Regions from separate parts of the Homo sapiens genome. Here region 2 is linked to region 1. A link means that fine-mapping ties the variant in region 1 to the expression of a gene that starts in the linked region. Tissue or cell type: whole blood. Region 1 holds a variant in brackets; the other region holds the start of a gene. All regions are shown on one strand. Distances are between the middles of the regions.

Region 1 (8,170 bases):
GCAGTGTTGTGATCTTGGCTCACTGTAACCTCCACCTCCCGGGTTCAAGTGATTCTCCCACCTCAGCCTCCCATGTATCTGGGACTACAGGTGTGCACCACCATGCCTGGCTAATTTTTTTGTATTTTTAGTAGAGGCAAGGTTTCACCATGTTGGCCAGGCTGGTCTCGAACTCCCGACCTCAGGTGATCTGACCTCCTCATCCTCCCAAAGTGTGGGATTACATGCGTGAGCCACTGTGCCTGGCCCCGAGATGGGGTACTTGGATTGGCAAATCCTGTGTCCTGTGCCCATCCTTGAGAATGTGGGCTGCCCCAACAGTAGAGCCACACAGGATCGTTCCCTTGGAAAGGGGTGCTCTGCTACCCAAGGAAGGGAAAAAGGAGTGCCAGGCAGTCAGATATCCATGCCCATCATGCCCTCCAGACGGCTTCCTCACTGTTTGTCCAAAGGTCTTTTGAGCTGATCTCCTTGCCCTGACTTAGATGAAGTTCCTCAAGGTGTCCTTGGAGCCACTCTCTGCTAGCACCGTGTCTTTGCGTTCACTTTTTATGTCATACGCCCTTGTAATCGATCCCTCCCACCATGCTGCAGCCACTCGTGGTCTTAGTACAATATCCCATGTTCTGTCTCCAGGCAGGCAGTTTCTTCCTCTCAAAGTCAGTCTTCCTCTTCTGATCATTTATGAAATTTGATCCTCATGCACCATATGCAGTCTCTTATAGTAAAAAACCTACTCACAGTGGAAAGATCTGAGGTCTAGTGCTGGCTTGCAGGGCAAGTTGTATTTTCTCTGGAGGCCTCAAGAACCTCATCTGAAATATGGGTGGTTGGACAAGAAAAACAGGGGGCTCCTCTCCTTTTTCCCCACTCAGAGAGAGAAAAATAATTCCTCACAGAACCCATTCTCTTTCCCTGCTTATAGAACTCCGAGCTGCAACTAAATTAACTGAGGAAAAGTATGAACTGAAAGAGGGGCAGACCCTGGATGTGAAATGTGACTACACGCTAGAGAAGTTTGCCAGCAGCCAGAAAGCTTGGCAGATAATAAGGGACGGAGAGATGCCCAAGACCCTGGCATGCACAGAGAGGCCTTCAAAGAATTCCCATCCAGTCCAAGTGGGGAGGATCATACTAGAAGACTACCATGATCATGGTTTACTGCGCGTCCGAATGGTCAACCTTCAAGTGGAAGATTCTGGACTGTATCAGTGTGTGATCTACCAGCCTCCCAAGGAGCCTCACATGCTGTTCGATCGCATCCGCTTGGTGGTGACCAAGGGTGAGTGGCCTGGGACTTGGGGGGAAAGAAGGGCCAGGTGAGGAAAGGGGCAGTGGTGGTAGCATCAGCAGAGCTGGGGTTCAGGATTCCCAGCAGTCTGTCTTCCTCCCAGGACCTCTTTATCTCTCATCTAAGGTCCAGTAGTAAGTAGAACCTTCCATGCATGAGATTCTCCTTGGATAGCACAGCCTAATTTTGGGTGCTGTGGTAGGAATTGGGGTACAATTAAGGTGAGTGGTAGATTTGGGATAATTTAGTCCCATTCTTTGTTCTCCACTTAGAAGTCATGTCCTGACTCCCCCTCCCAAGGATGCGTTTGGTGGCATGCCTGTGTGCTTCTGAAGCAGCCCCTCTCACATCTTTCTGTGGGCACAGACCACCTGGGGATCTTATTTCAAATGCACACTCCAACTGAATGGGTACAGGGGTCTGCATCTCTATTGATCTCCCAGGTGATGCCAATGCTGATGGTCCATGGCTCCCATTTTGGGGGAGCAAGTCTCCAGAGCTCATTTTGTGTCCCCTTGTACACAACTCTACTCACTGGATAGGAGAGGGGGGTTTACTTATCTGTACCCTATTCATTTCAGAACTGCTTGAGGGAAGCACCTGTGCCTTCCTGGGCTCTGCACCCCTAGCAAATAATGTAGTTTCTGACACAAAGTAGGCCCTCAGGAGATGTTGCATTAAGGAATGAATTATGGAAGACAGAGGAAAGGGAAGCAGGCTCAAGTTCCCAGCACCTGGGGAATTCTAAGCCTGAGGAAGACAAGGTGCACACACAATATATTAATAAAAGATAACTTTTAAAGCAATATGCCATAAGCCAGGTGAACGAAAGGCAGAGTGAATCAAGTAAGCCTGGAATTATTCTTGGAGAAGGTTGGGGCACAAGAATTGGTGAAGAACAGAAGGCAAGTTCATTTCCAACAGTACGAATGACAAAAAATTCCTTTCTTCTTCTCTCTTTCTGCTCTCCCTCACTTCCTGCCCTTTTTTTCTTCTTTCCTTTTTTCGATTTCTGACTCAGGTTGACTCCACAGTATTTCTTTGGCTTTAGCAAAGGAAAACTTTGCATTTGGGCCATGCTCATTTCCCTCCTCAGCTTCATTTACCGTACCACCTACCCGTCCATCAACTCATCCACATTTTCATCCATACATCCATACATCCATTCACCCACCCATCCACCCATTCATCATCCATCTGTCCATCCATCCATCCAATGTGTCTTCTTGCAGGTTTTTCAGGGACCCCTGGCTCCAATGAGAATTCTACCCAGAATGTGTATAAGATTCCTCCTACCACCACTAAGGCCTTGTGCCCACTCTATACCAGCCCCAGAACTGTGACCCAAGCTCCACCCAAGTCAACTGCCGATGTCTCCACTCCTGACTCTGAAATCAACCTTACAAATGTGACAGATATCATCAGGTATAGTTTCCAGGTCCCTGGGCCCCTGGTTTGGACACTGAGCCCTTTGTTTCCCAGTCTGTGTGCTGAGAGGATGTGAAAGTGAGGGAAAGGGGAGGGTGGGGCAGGAGAAGACTTGAGTCACATTAGTCTGGGTAGAAATGTCCAGGGGAAGAAGGAAGTGGTGATGGAGAATAGGGGAGGCTCTCAGCCAGGCTGTCCTTCTCCCCAGTTCACCTTCTTTGTTTCCTTGCAACCTGAGTATTAAAGAGAGGGAAATGGCATCTTCCCCAAGTTCCAGTGGAGCTCATCCAACCCCAGGGGCCTGATGGGCAGTGGGAAAGCACTCTGAGTGAGGGGCCCTGGATCTAGTGTTGGCCTGACTAACTGAATGTGACTTTGGGTGAGTCAGGAACCCTCTCTGGCTTTAGCTTCTTTGACAATTCAGTAGGCATGGTAGAAACCCAAAGCTGGAAGACATTGTCCACCTAATAACTCTCAGCAGGAGCTGGAGCTGGGGCTAAATGCAGTATTGGTTTTTGCCTTATTGTTTTTTAAATAACATTGTTGCATGTGCCCAATTATAGATAAATAGAATCAGAATTTTTGCAGATGAGGTCCCTCTCAGTATTTTTAATAAGATGTTTAGGAGATTTCTAATGTGTAGGCAAACTTAAGAACCACTAACTTAGCAATTTCACACCTCTTTACAGTTATTAAATGTTGATTTATATTAGAATGTGTTTATCATTAAATACTGAATTATCAGGATGGAAATACTTTTCCACATCACCACTAGTCTAACATGTCTTTTTTCTCATATTCTCTTCTAGTCTTTATTCATGTTTATACATATTTTAATATGGCAGTAAGTCTAATTATACATGTTTTTATTCTTTTCCTTGCTGAAATTATTCTTTGATGCTGCTACCTAAATTTCATAAATATAATTTCA[A/G]TGAGTGCATATTTTTCTATCAATTGGGAAAGCCATAACTTACATAACCATTGGCCTGTTCTTAGACATTGATATAGTGTTGATAACTCTGAGATAAACATATTCTTGCAGATATATTTTTCTTCTTTTAAATAATTAACTCGAAATTTCCATGAGATAATTTAAACACTGATATCATTTTGTATACAAATAGCATCTACCAATGGTCTTCCAAAAGATTGGAAACAATTTGCAGTGTGATCCATTAAGCATAAATAAAGCAGTGTCATGGCAGGCTTACAGACACGGATTTAGTCTTTTAAATCATTAAATAGTGTGAGTTAAATCACATTCCTGCTAAAACAAATGTGAACTGGTGCCTGCTCTAATTTCTCTATGAGTGTAGACTCCACCTCCATATGGGTAGTGGCAGTGCCTTTTTCCCCATTATGTTGTTTGGGGAACAAAGTGCTCATTAAACTTCTGTGGAATAAATCAAACGAATGATCTACTAAGAGTCAATTTTTTTTTTTCCTCTACTTTCATTTTGCAATACATAAGTTAAGAGAACATAATCTTTGCCCATATTCTTACTTTTACCGGAAGGAGGGCCTTAAGTGTAAGCTGTCCAGGTTCTGGGCCTTTTAATCAAAGTATTGGAGAAGACGCACAAAGTAACAAAGGAATGAAGCAGTGAAAGCAGGAATTTATTTAAGCGAGAAAGCGCTCCCCAGGGTAGAAGTGGCCCCACGCAAGTGGCTCAAGGGCCAAGTTACAAAGTTTTCTGGGTTTTAAGTACTCCACGTGAAGTTCCTCCCAGTTACCCCTTATCTGGATGAAGCATTTGGTTTGTGGCTAACTAAAGGCTAAGGTGAATTGGCGCCCTCTGTGGGTAAAGGGATGGTCGTCTCTGCTTGGCTCAGGGCCAATCTAAGACACTCTCCCTTTCCAGCTGAGACGTGGTGGAAGGGGGAGGGCTGTAGGGAGAGTAGCCTTTGATTCTTTGCTGCTGGGGCATGGGGAGATGGGGTTTTTCCTTTTGTTTTAGCTTTAGAAAGTTTATGTTAATTGGCCTTAGGTTCCCTGACCCCAGCCCCAGGAGTTTTCCTTTTGATCCAGCTATGGGAAGTCAGCACGAATCCATCCTAGATTTCTTGCCCCTAGACCTTGGTGTTGCTCCATGATTCAGCATGAATTGGTCTTACGTTCCTGCCTCCAGACCCTATTCTCCTGCCTTGCTGCTAGAGACTGCATCTCTCTTTTATCTGTTAACTTTATCTATCATCTAATATGAACTATCCTTTCAGCCAAAATCCAGTCTGGAAAGTGGAATCCACACTAGCTGTTTGAAAAGAAGAAGCTTTTTTTCTTTTTCTTTTCTTTTTTTTTTTGAGACACGGTCTCACTCTGTCAATCAGGCTGGAGTGGAGTGGCACGATCATGGCTCACTGTAGCCTCAACCTCCTCCCACCTTTGCCTCCCAAGTAGCTGGGACCACAGGTGCATACCACCAGGACAGCTAATACTTTTTATTATTTTTGTAGAGATGGGGGTCTCCCTGTGTTGCCCAGGCTGATCTCGAATTCTTGGGATCAAGTGATCCTCCCACCTCGGCCTCCCAAAGTGCTGGGATTACAAGTGTGAGCCACCACATCCAGCCATGAAACGAAGGAATTTAATGCAGGGAATTGTTTGCCCAGGTGATGGAAGAGCTGAGACGCTATCCTGGGGATGGAGAGGCACTGCAGAGGTAGCCACTATCACCCTATCTCTAGGTAGTTTCCCCAGAAGCAAGCTGTAAAGTCTTGTTAAAATGTTTTAGGACTAGGTGTTGTGGCTCACACATATAATCCCAGCACTTTGGCAGGCTGAGGTGGGAGAATCACTTGAGCCCAGGAATTTGAGATTAGCTTGGGCAACATAGCAAGACTCCGTCTTTACAAAAAAATAATAAAAAAATTAGCAGGGCATGGTGGCATGCACCCATGGTCCCAGCTACTCGGGAGGCTGAGGCAGGAGGATCACTTGAGCCTGGGAGATCAAGGCTTCAGTGAGCTGTGATCAAGCCACTGTACTCCAGCCTGGGCAACAGAGCAAGATCCTGCTCTCTTTCTCTCTAAAAAAAAAAAAAAAAAAAAAAGACAAAAAGAAAAATGTTTTAGGAAGTGATTTCTGGCAAAGCCATTGAGGAAGTGGGACCAGGAAGGGAAGGAAGCCAAGCAAGCGTGTCATAACCAAGGGGTATCTCACAGGATAACTCTGGCTCAGTCTTGTTAAGGAGCTCTGGGGACTCCTGGGTCACATTTGGAGTTGTCCCTATAAGGGGCAGTAACTGAGCAAGGGCAGCTCTAACCAAGGCCAAGCACATGAATTCCTGGCCCTTCAGGGGGTTGGTAGCTTGTGTGCAGCCTCGAAAAAAATGCAGATGGTGGCCTGTTGGGAGTGGACATGCCCCAGGAGTTCAGCATAGGAAAATGGTAAAGCACTCAGAGTGGATAATGCAGAGCACTGGCAGGAGAGACTTGGGGAGGAGGTGCAGTGAGCAGAGCCCGGAAGCCAGGACATTCAGGTTGCAGCACTGGAATCGGGGCAGATGCTGAGGATGCTGAGTGCGCCACCATGTGAGGGGTGAGAGAGATGCTGGCTCCCTGCCCCTTGCTGCCTGTCTCTCTGCCCCATCCCTGCCCCCGTCTCTGCCCCCTGTCCCCCACCAGTTGCTGAACTCGACCAGTCAGGCTTGGGAATGTAGTCCCCTGTGCTACAAGTCAGGGCCCTTGAATGGGGGTGGATTTCAGGCAAATAGGCAGTTTTCTGCTTTCTAGCTCCTTTACGCCGTTTCCCTCTTTGCTAGTTTGTGCATGTGGTTTTAAGTTTTGTATAGGTGGGTGTGTTGATTTTAAATCAATTGCTTTGCTTTATTCCTTAATGTGTTTGATTCTATTTCCTGGTGACTTTTCTTGGATTGTTTTTTTTTTATTTTATTTAAATGTTTAGTCCGGGGGAAGATTTATTCTGCTACATGCTATAAACTGTAGAAAAGCCTACACCGTTACCATGTTGCTGTCCAGATACTGCAAGACTATTTACTAAATGATCCTCCTGCCTCTCCAAGTAGCTGGGACCATGGGTGCATGCTACCACGTCCGGCTTATCCACTGGACCTCTGATTTCCTTAGACATTATGTTCCTGCATAGCACTGGCTCTGCATCTGGCCTTTGTGTTCCATTGCCATCTGTCTGTCCCTGTGTCTTACCATGCCACATCCTTGTGCTCTCATCTGCTTGCATGTCTGCTGATGGAACTGGCCAAGTGCCCTCACTCCTTTGCATCTTTTTATTATGATACCTATTGATGTTTACCCAGAAACCTTAGAATCATTTCGCCAAAATCTATAAAATTCATGATGAGATTTTCACTACGGGTGGATTCTTCTCGGTTTATAGGTGAGGAAACCGAGCTAAAGAGGTGAGATGACCATCCCAGTAGGCAGGGTACGGTACTGAGAATAGAGAGCGGGTTTCCTGGCCAGAGTCCTCTCTCCCTACCACATCACAGGGAGGAGGATGGGCTGATCAGCCCGACTGTCTCCCTCCAGTGCCTCTCCTGGACAGGGACCTATACTCTCCACTGAATTGTTTCTAATCAGTAGTTTTTGGCAATGAGACAGACTGAAAAGCACAGGGTCAGGCAGTGCGGGAAAGGTGGAGCAAGGATCTAAGCAGAGGAGAGTGGGACATGAAGGCATTTTCTAGAGGGAACATGTGCGTGTGGGAGAGACTTTGCCAGCAGTAGCGTTCAGCCTCTTGTCTCCCGCAGGGTTCCGGTGTTCAACATTGTCATTCTCCTGGCTGGTGGATTCCTGAGTAAGAGCCTGGTCTTCTCTGTCCTGTTTGCTGTCACGCTGAGGTCATTTGTACCCTAGGCCCACGAACCCACGAGAATGTCCTCTGACTTCCAGCCACATCCATCTGGCAGTTGTGCCAAGGGAGGAGGGAGGAGGTAAAAGGCAGGGAGTTAATAACATGAATTAAATCTGTAATCACCGGCTATTTCTAAAGTCAGCGTCTCACCTTCCTGCCCACTGCCCTCGTTCCTCTAATAATCTTGGGTGGGCATTTGTGCCTCAGAAAAGAAGTTACAGCCCCAAACATGCTTGGTCCTTCATTCCACCAGCCACTTGGGGTTGGCATGAAATACAGACAGCTCAATGCTTTTCACCGTAATTCTCTTGTGGGGGCTGTGACATGCAGAAGGCACACCTGATACTTCTCCTGCTCAGTTTTGCCCTGGACCATACAATTTTGGCCTGACCTGGACAGAGCTCCCACTACAGAAGCATCCTGCTCGCCCCATGCTGGGACTTCCTCTTTCTAGCATCAGACACTTGGGTTTCATGCTTATGTGTGGTTCTTTCCAACACTCCCAGAAAAGGGTGTTGAAGATTGTGGAACCTGGAGAAATAAGACATCGTGGTGAGAAAGTGCATCCTTCTCAGAGAAAAGAGTTAAACTGAGTATCTTCTTCTGGGGAAATACTGGCA
Region 2 (7,370 bases), 78 kb after region 1:
AGAGAAATAATTATCTATAAAGGAATACCAATTCTAATTGTAGTGAATTTCTTATCTGAAACAATTGAAGCCAGAAAAATGTGGCACAACATTGTTCAAATGCTGTAAAAGACAAACAACACAATTGAATAAATATTTTTCCAAGGGTATACAAATGAGCAAATTGTGCATGCTCAAGATGAAGATGCTCAATATCATTAGTCATTAGGTAACTACAATTCAAAACTTAAGTACATTCACTGGATGGCTGTAAACAGAAAGCCAATACAAGTATTGGAGAGATTGTAGAGAAATGAGAACTCATACATTGCTGGAGAGGGTGTAAAATTTGCAGCCACTTTGGAAAACTATTGGTAGTTCCTGAAAATGTTAAACATAGAGTTGCCATATGACCCAGTAGTTCTACTATTGGTTATGTACTCAAGAGAAATGAAAACGTATGTCCACACAAAAACTTGTACATGAATAGTCATAGTAACACTGCTTATAATAGTTGAACAGTGGAAACAAATAAAATATTTGTCAACTGATAAATGGTAAACATATATATCCATTCAGTGGAATATTATTCAGCCTTTAAAAGGAATGATGTATTAATACAACGTATAGCACAAGTACAGCTACAACATGGACAAACCTGGAAAACATGCCAAATGAAAGAATCCAGTCACAAGGAACACATATTGTTCAATTATGTTTTTATGACATATCCAGAATTGATAAAGGCATTTTTGATTGAAGATATTTTTGTCTAGAAAGACAAAAATATTAGTGGTTGCCTGGGACTGTAGGAATGGGGACTGTGGTAAGCTGATAAATGGTCTCTTAAAAGATATCTGTGTCCTAATCCCTGGAACCTGTGATTGTTACCCTTATATGGCAAAAAACAAAAAAAAAATGATCTTTGCTGATATGAGTGAGTTAAACATCTTGAGATGGTGAGATTATCCTGGATTACGTAGATGGGAACTAAATGCAATCACATGTATCCTTATGTAAGAGAGTCAGAGTGGGATTTGAACACAAAGAGGAGAAAGTGATGGGAAGATGGAGCAGAGGGAGACTGAAGATGCTGGCCTTGAAGATTGGAGTAAAACAGCCCCAAACCAAAGAATGCTGGCAGCTACCTGAAGCTGGAAAGGCAAGGAACAAATTTTTCCCTAGTGTCTCTGGAGAGACTGCAGCCCTGTCGACATCTTCATCTCAATACAGTGTGAACTGACTTCAGACTTCTGCCTTCAGAATGGCGAGACAATAACTTAATACTGTTTTAAGCCACCAAGTCTGCAGTAAACGGATCCAGGGAGTGCCTGCTAACGGGCATGGGGTTTCTTTGGGTGGGGAAATCCTGCAAAATTGGTGTTAGTTGTACAACTCAGTGAATATATTGAAAACCACTGAATTGTATGCTTTAGATGGGTCAGTTTTATATTATGTGAATTATAGCTCACAGAATTGTTGAAAAAAGTCATTGTGACCTTGGGTTAAGCAAAGATTTATTAGATATGACATAAAAATTGATTCATAAAAATTATATATTGGACTTCACCAGAATAAATCAACATAAAGTGCTTCACTTTTCCATTCTGGAAAGAGAGAAATGACAGGAAAAAACCCCACCAGATCAGTGTTTGTCTGGGACTGAAGGGATGACTAACAAGGAGCAGAGGAAAGCTTTTCGGGATGATGGCACTCTTCTCTGTCTCCATTACGGCATTGGATACAAGTCTCTAGAACTCCCAGAACTCGTCACTGAAAAGGGTGAATAGTACTGTATGTAAATTAGGCCTTAATTTTTAAATGGGAAAAATAAATATAAAGACAAAATACACTGCTGTATTAAATCAAATGATAGATGTAAAAGTCTAATGTATACGTATTTTTAATGATTTTGACCAATGCTTCCAAATTTCTCTTAAGAAAGATTGAATCCAGTGCATACTTCCTCGATCAGCGAATGAATGTTTGATTCTTTCTACCCTCATCAGCACAGTGATCCCAAGGGTCACACTTTAGACGATGATTGGCTCAGTGCTGGGCGCACTGTATCAGTTTCATAGAATCATGGATTCCAAGCGCATAAAGTCCCCACAAGAGATAAATCCCCCACTCCTGAAGCAACTTACTGTTCTGATGGGGGAAGGGATGGAGGAACTTACTGTGTGTGCTGGGGAGGGGAGATGGCCCCTGAACTCAGGGAGCTCAGGAAGTTCTGAGGACTGGGTGAGAAACATTGAAAAAGGAAGGGTGAATAAGGAAAACAAAACACGTCTGTGAGCTGAGAGGTCTCAAGTGACAATCGTGTCTCATTCCTACGCCCCCAGTGCCTACCTAGCCCCATGCATAGCAATGAGGTTGTGGGAATGAACAAATGAATGAATGAATTAATGAGTGAGTGAATGAGTTGAGAGACTACAAAAGCTTAGGGTCAGCCGAGATAGACTTCTTTGCTTGGAGCTTGGGGCTTCAAGGTCAATTTAAGATTGTGGCCATGCAAGCTTGAGGACTTTTTGCTCTGAGTCCTGTTAAAATTAATGAAAATGGAGACCAGGCCTGAAGAGTCCCTGAGCAAAAATTAAAAAAACAGTTAGGCCTCATAAGTGACCTCAACTTTGCTTGATTTGCAAATATCAGTGAAACTTAACACGAGCTATTTCTTGTAAATGTGTATATTAAGGAAAAATAGAACTTAAGCTCAACCAATCAAAAGAAACTTATATAATTAACTAGGGTCTTTCCAACAGGATAGGCCAAATAAGGGAACTATATAACTATAACTAATTAAATATTTTCTTCAGTTTACTTGTCCTGTAGGAGTCTTCCCCTTGCATTCCCCCAGTGGAGCTCCTCAACCTCTTCTGTTTGGAGCTGCCTGATTCATGAATTGTTGTTTGCTGAAATAATCTGTTTAAAATTTTATTGTGCCTCAGTTTACCTTTTGACAGTCCCATCTAAGGAGTAGAAACATGGCACTAGTGAGTAGGGGGAGCATACATAATCACGGGAGTCCAGCTGGGTCCCCACACACTGAAGGAGCAGATGACACAGGTACCGGACATCAAAAATTGATGCTTCTGATTCTAGGCCTTGGGGTAAGTGAAGGGTGTGGTCTTGGGCCTAGTGCTGGGTCATTTCCACTGGAGCTGGTGGCTGTACAGGCGAGATAGCATTGAGCAGGAGGAAGTGGAGGGCACTTGCCTGCGTGCTGACGTAGGCTGGAGGCAGGGGAGGAAGGGGGTCTTGAGATGAGGTGGGTGAGGGGAAGTACTGCGGAGGCTGTAGGAAGCCTGCACGAGGGACTAGGAGTCTAGAGGGAGCTGATGGTGAGTAGAGTCGACAGGAGGAGAGGCAGGGAGAGGGACAGAGAGAGGAGACGTATGGATAGGGAAAAGGAGAGGCTGCTGGGGTGTGTGTGAGACTGTGTGCATGGGCGTGTGTGTGTGTGTGTGAAAGTGAATAAAAGACAAAGTGAGACTGTGAGTGTGAGTGCATGTGCATGCACACCTGTGTGTGAGAGTACAGGAACCCCTCCCTCAACCCAAAATTTATGCCCTGAGTCTTAACAATTTGCATTTTTCCCGCTTGACAAAAGTAAGATTTCAAGTGAGCCTGTAAGAGGTTATTTGCAACAGTGAACACAAGTGACTGTTCTGAGCAGCCAGGAGCCTGGGAGAGAGAGAGAGGAAGGAACAGAAAGAATCTGCAATGAATGAATGAATGAGAGTTTATAAGAACTTCCCTGTGAATGTATATATGTAAGAAACTAGGGTCTGAGATGCTCCATCTCAGCCTAAGAGCCCGCACCCCTGGGTCTCTGAGCCCAGAAGATTCCAGGAAGGTCTATACCTGACGTTCCAGAAGCCTCACCCCAGCCCCCTTGCTGGATCCTAGGGACCAGTTTCTGGGGGAGGTTGGGGAGGGCGGGGAGCCCTCTGACTGTGAGTCCTCCCGGCTTGGGGCCCCAGACTGGGTGGAGCAGCCACACCTGCCTGAAGTTCCGAGGAAAAGGGCGGAAACAGCTGCCAGCACCGCCCTCATAATAGGCTCAATGAATCCCTGCGGTTGGCTGGGGGCAGTGGGTCCCACACTGCCTCACTTCCCTAAATGGGCAGCTTCACTTTTAGAACCCCGGGTCCTTCCCTGGCAGGCCCAGGTGGCACATCCTGTGTCGGGTGGGCCCTCACCTTGGATCTCCAGGCCTGACACTGCCCAGCTGGATGGAACCATGGCCCCAGCCTTCCTGCTGCTGCTGCTGCTGTGGCCACAGGGTTGCGTCTCAGGTGAGGGGAGAAGGGGCTGACTTGTGGAGGAGGGAGTGGGTACAGAGGCAGGAGCTCAGGGCCTTTTTCTTACCCTCCTTACCAGCAGTTTTCTTGTTTAGTGTTTTGTGGGTTGGGGAAGGAGGAGATTAGGGCTGACTTAGCTCTTTACCCTAATATCAGGCCCCAGGCGAAGCTAACCCAGGCCTCCCAAGCCAAGATAAAGCTCTGGACCCTCTCTGCATTGGCTCCTTTATCTGCTAGGCTTCCTCAGGCTTTAAAGCAGAGCCCTCAATTTCCTCACACAAATAGCTTTCTCTGCTTGGCCTCTGTCAGGAAGCCCTGCTTAGTTATGACAGCAATCATTGCATCATGTGTGTTTTGAACTGAATTTGAACATTTTTCTTGAAATGCTGATGCCACATCCTGTCCCTGCCTCTGTCCTGAAGGGACCAGTGTGTGAATGCCTTTCCCACCTCACAGATACCAATGCTCCTTGAGGAACCTCACCCATTCCTGCCCCTCTCGCTGCCATGGCAACCAAGTTACCACTTCCTGTTCAGTTCTGGGCATGGTGGGGGTTGGCAAAACTCACCACTGCCTGTGAGAGGGGTGGGAGGTGTAGGCACACATGAAGACATTGCCCTGGAGACCCATCCCAAGGTCACCCAACTCTGCACCTCCCAGAGGGTAGAGAAACAGCTTCCCACTGCCAGGGCAGAAAGGGGTCTCTCTTGTGCTAAGAAATCCTGGGCTCATCCACCAAATAATGAAGTTGGATCATTCTGTTTAGTTTGCAAGGGACAGAGGGATGCTTAGAGAGGGTGCTGCTTCACACAGAGCCTCAGCTCTAGTGGCTGCTGGCTGGGACTTGGGACGGATATCCTGGATTCTGGTGGGACAGATGTCCTGGATTCTGGGCCCTTGACTGTCACAGCTCTGGGTTCCATTGGGGGAACTGGGAGGCCCCAGCATGTGGGAAAAGGAAGCATGAGTTGAGCATGCACTGTGTGCAAAGCACTGACCTGGGGCAGAATTCTCACAGCAACCTGTGAGGGGTGTGGTGCTATTCTCACTTGACTGATAAAGAAACAGAGATATTTCTGTATCAGTCAAGTGTCTGTTTTGATATTTCTGTATCAAACAGGTGACCTAATCACACCACTAAGTGGTAGAAACAGGGTTTCAACCCTTGTTTATTTTGACTCCAAAATGTGTGCTCTCTGTTCTCTACTATGGGGGAGAGTCTTTTTATATGTGGTTTTTTTGGAAGACTCTGGGGTGAAATTATCAGAAGAGTCAGCTGAGCTTAAGGCAGGCAGAGGGGTGGAGGGAGCCCAAGGCAGCTTTCTCCCTCTCTCTGTCCCCTGAGTCACCCTGCACACCCCAGTTCTGCTCTGTCTCTACCAGACTGTGGATTATGAAGGCTTGGACCACATCTTACTCCTCAGCATAGAGAGAAAGATATTGCAGGTGGAAAGTGAATAATTGTAGAATCCTGTGGTTCACACTCCATTGGGAGTTTGTTTACATGTATATTTAGACAGGCTTGATCTATGGGTTTTATGTAACTAGAATATTTTAAAACTAAACACCAGATGGAATGAACTAAGGAGAGTTATTATTTAAAGAGGACTAAGTGAACCTATTTGTGAAATAAATAACTGTTAATCATATTTTCAAATACTAGATTTTCTTATCTACCTAGTTAGTTGGGCACTGAAATTTCACAACTTAATGACCTGTGTTTGTGTCTCTGCATCTGTCTCACTGAGGGCATGACCTGGGTTTTTCCCACAAGAATTCCCTGGGATGCCGGGCACAGTGGCTCACGCCTGCAATCCCAGCACTTTGGGAGGCCGAGGCAGGTGGATCACGAAGTCAAGAGATTGAGACCATCCTGGCTAACATGGTGAAATCCCGTCTCTACTAAAAATACAAAAAATTAGCCGGACGTGGTGGCAGGCACCTGTAGTCCCAGCTACTCAGGAGGCTGAGGCAGGAGAATAGTTTGAACCCAGGAGGCGGAGGTTACAGTGAGCTGAGATCGTGCCACTGCACTCCAGCCTGGGCAACAGAGCGAGACTCCGTCTCAAAAACAAAACAAAACAAAACAAAACAAAACAAAAATGAATTCCCTGGGAATCCCTGAAGACAGAGCTTGTCACTTTCCCATCAGACTAGAAAATACCATGAGGAAAGGGGCTGTGTCTGATGGAGCTCCGAGTGTAAATGCTGCGTTTCCTCCATTAGACTGGGGACTCACTGAGGGATATACCTGCCTCCTCCATCAGACTGAAAGCTCCCTGAGAGCGGGGGTTGTGTCTCCACTGTAATACTGGAAGCTAGCTGTTTTCAGGGCCCATTCACCTCCCTTCAGATTGGGGCAAGCTCCCTGAAGGCGGGGCTGTATTTCCCCCTCAATCTGTGGGTTCTGTGACAGCAGGACAATATCCACTCTACCCTTCACCATGATCTTCAACTTTCATGATGTCTTCTTCCTCTCCTCTTGCCAGACCTTATTCAATAAGTATTGTCTCCACAGGCCCCTCTGCTGACAGTGTATACACAAAAGTGAGGCTCCTTGAAGGGGAGACTCTGTCTGTGCAGTGCTCCTATAAGGGCTACAAAAACCGCGTGGAGGGCAAGGTTTGGTGCAAAATCAGGAAGAAGAAGTGTGAGCCTGGCTTTGCCCGAGTCTGGGTGAAAGGGCCCCGCTACTTGCTGCAGGACGATGCCCAGGCCAAGGTGGTCAACATCACCATGGTGGCCCTCAAGCTCCAGGACTCAGGCCGATACTGGTGCATGCGCAACACCTCTGGGATCCTGTACCCCTTGATGGGCTTCCAGCTGGATGTGTCTCCAGGTGAGCAGGCTGCAGTGGCTCTGGGACGGGTGGAGGGAGTCCCTCCTGCCCCACACTCCACTAACATCAGAGATAATAAGGATAATAATCCATCAGTGGTCATGTTGCACTGTAGTGTTTTCAGAGTGCCTTTATGGCACTATTCGTGGCACTATTGTCACCATTTTACAGATGAAGATAATGAGACCTGAAAACCCAGTGTGACTCTGAGCTTGTCCGGGGTCCCAGAGCTAGCAGGTGGCTGA

Evidence for each region. PIP is the estimated chance that this variant, and not a neighbour inherited with it, causes the effect.
Region 2: it holds the start of TREML2, and the variant in region 1 is fine-mapped to the expression of TREML2 in whole blood (TOPMed, PIP above 0.99).

The regions. Positions count from the first base shown.
Region 1 is chr6:41,275,507-41,283,676 of GRCh38, reverse strand. TREM1 (triggering receptor expressed on myeloid cells 1) reads left to right here. Exons shown (of 4, transcript NM_018643.5): 2 at 926-1,282; 3 at 2,524-2,716; 4 at 7,447-8,170. The coding sequence ends at 7,552. Among named protein-coding and RNA genes, the nearest start is that of TREM1, 7.1 kb to the left of the region's middle. The variant A/G (reference allele first, on the strand shown) is at 3,651.
Region 2 is chr6:41,197,864-41,205,233 of GRCh38, reverse strand. It overlaps TREML2 (triggering receptor expressed on myeloid cells like 2), which reads left to right and starts at 4,085. Exons shown (of 5, transcript NM_024807.4): 1 at 4,085-4,280; 2 at 6,805-7,125. The coding sequence starts at 4,226. RefSeq lists an enhancer at 3,797-3,866.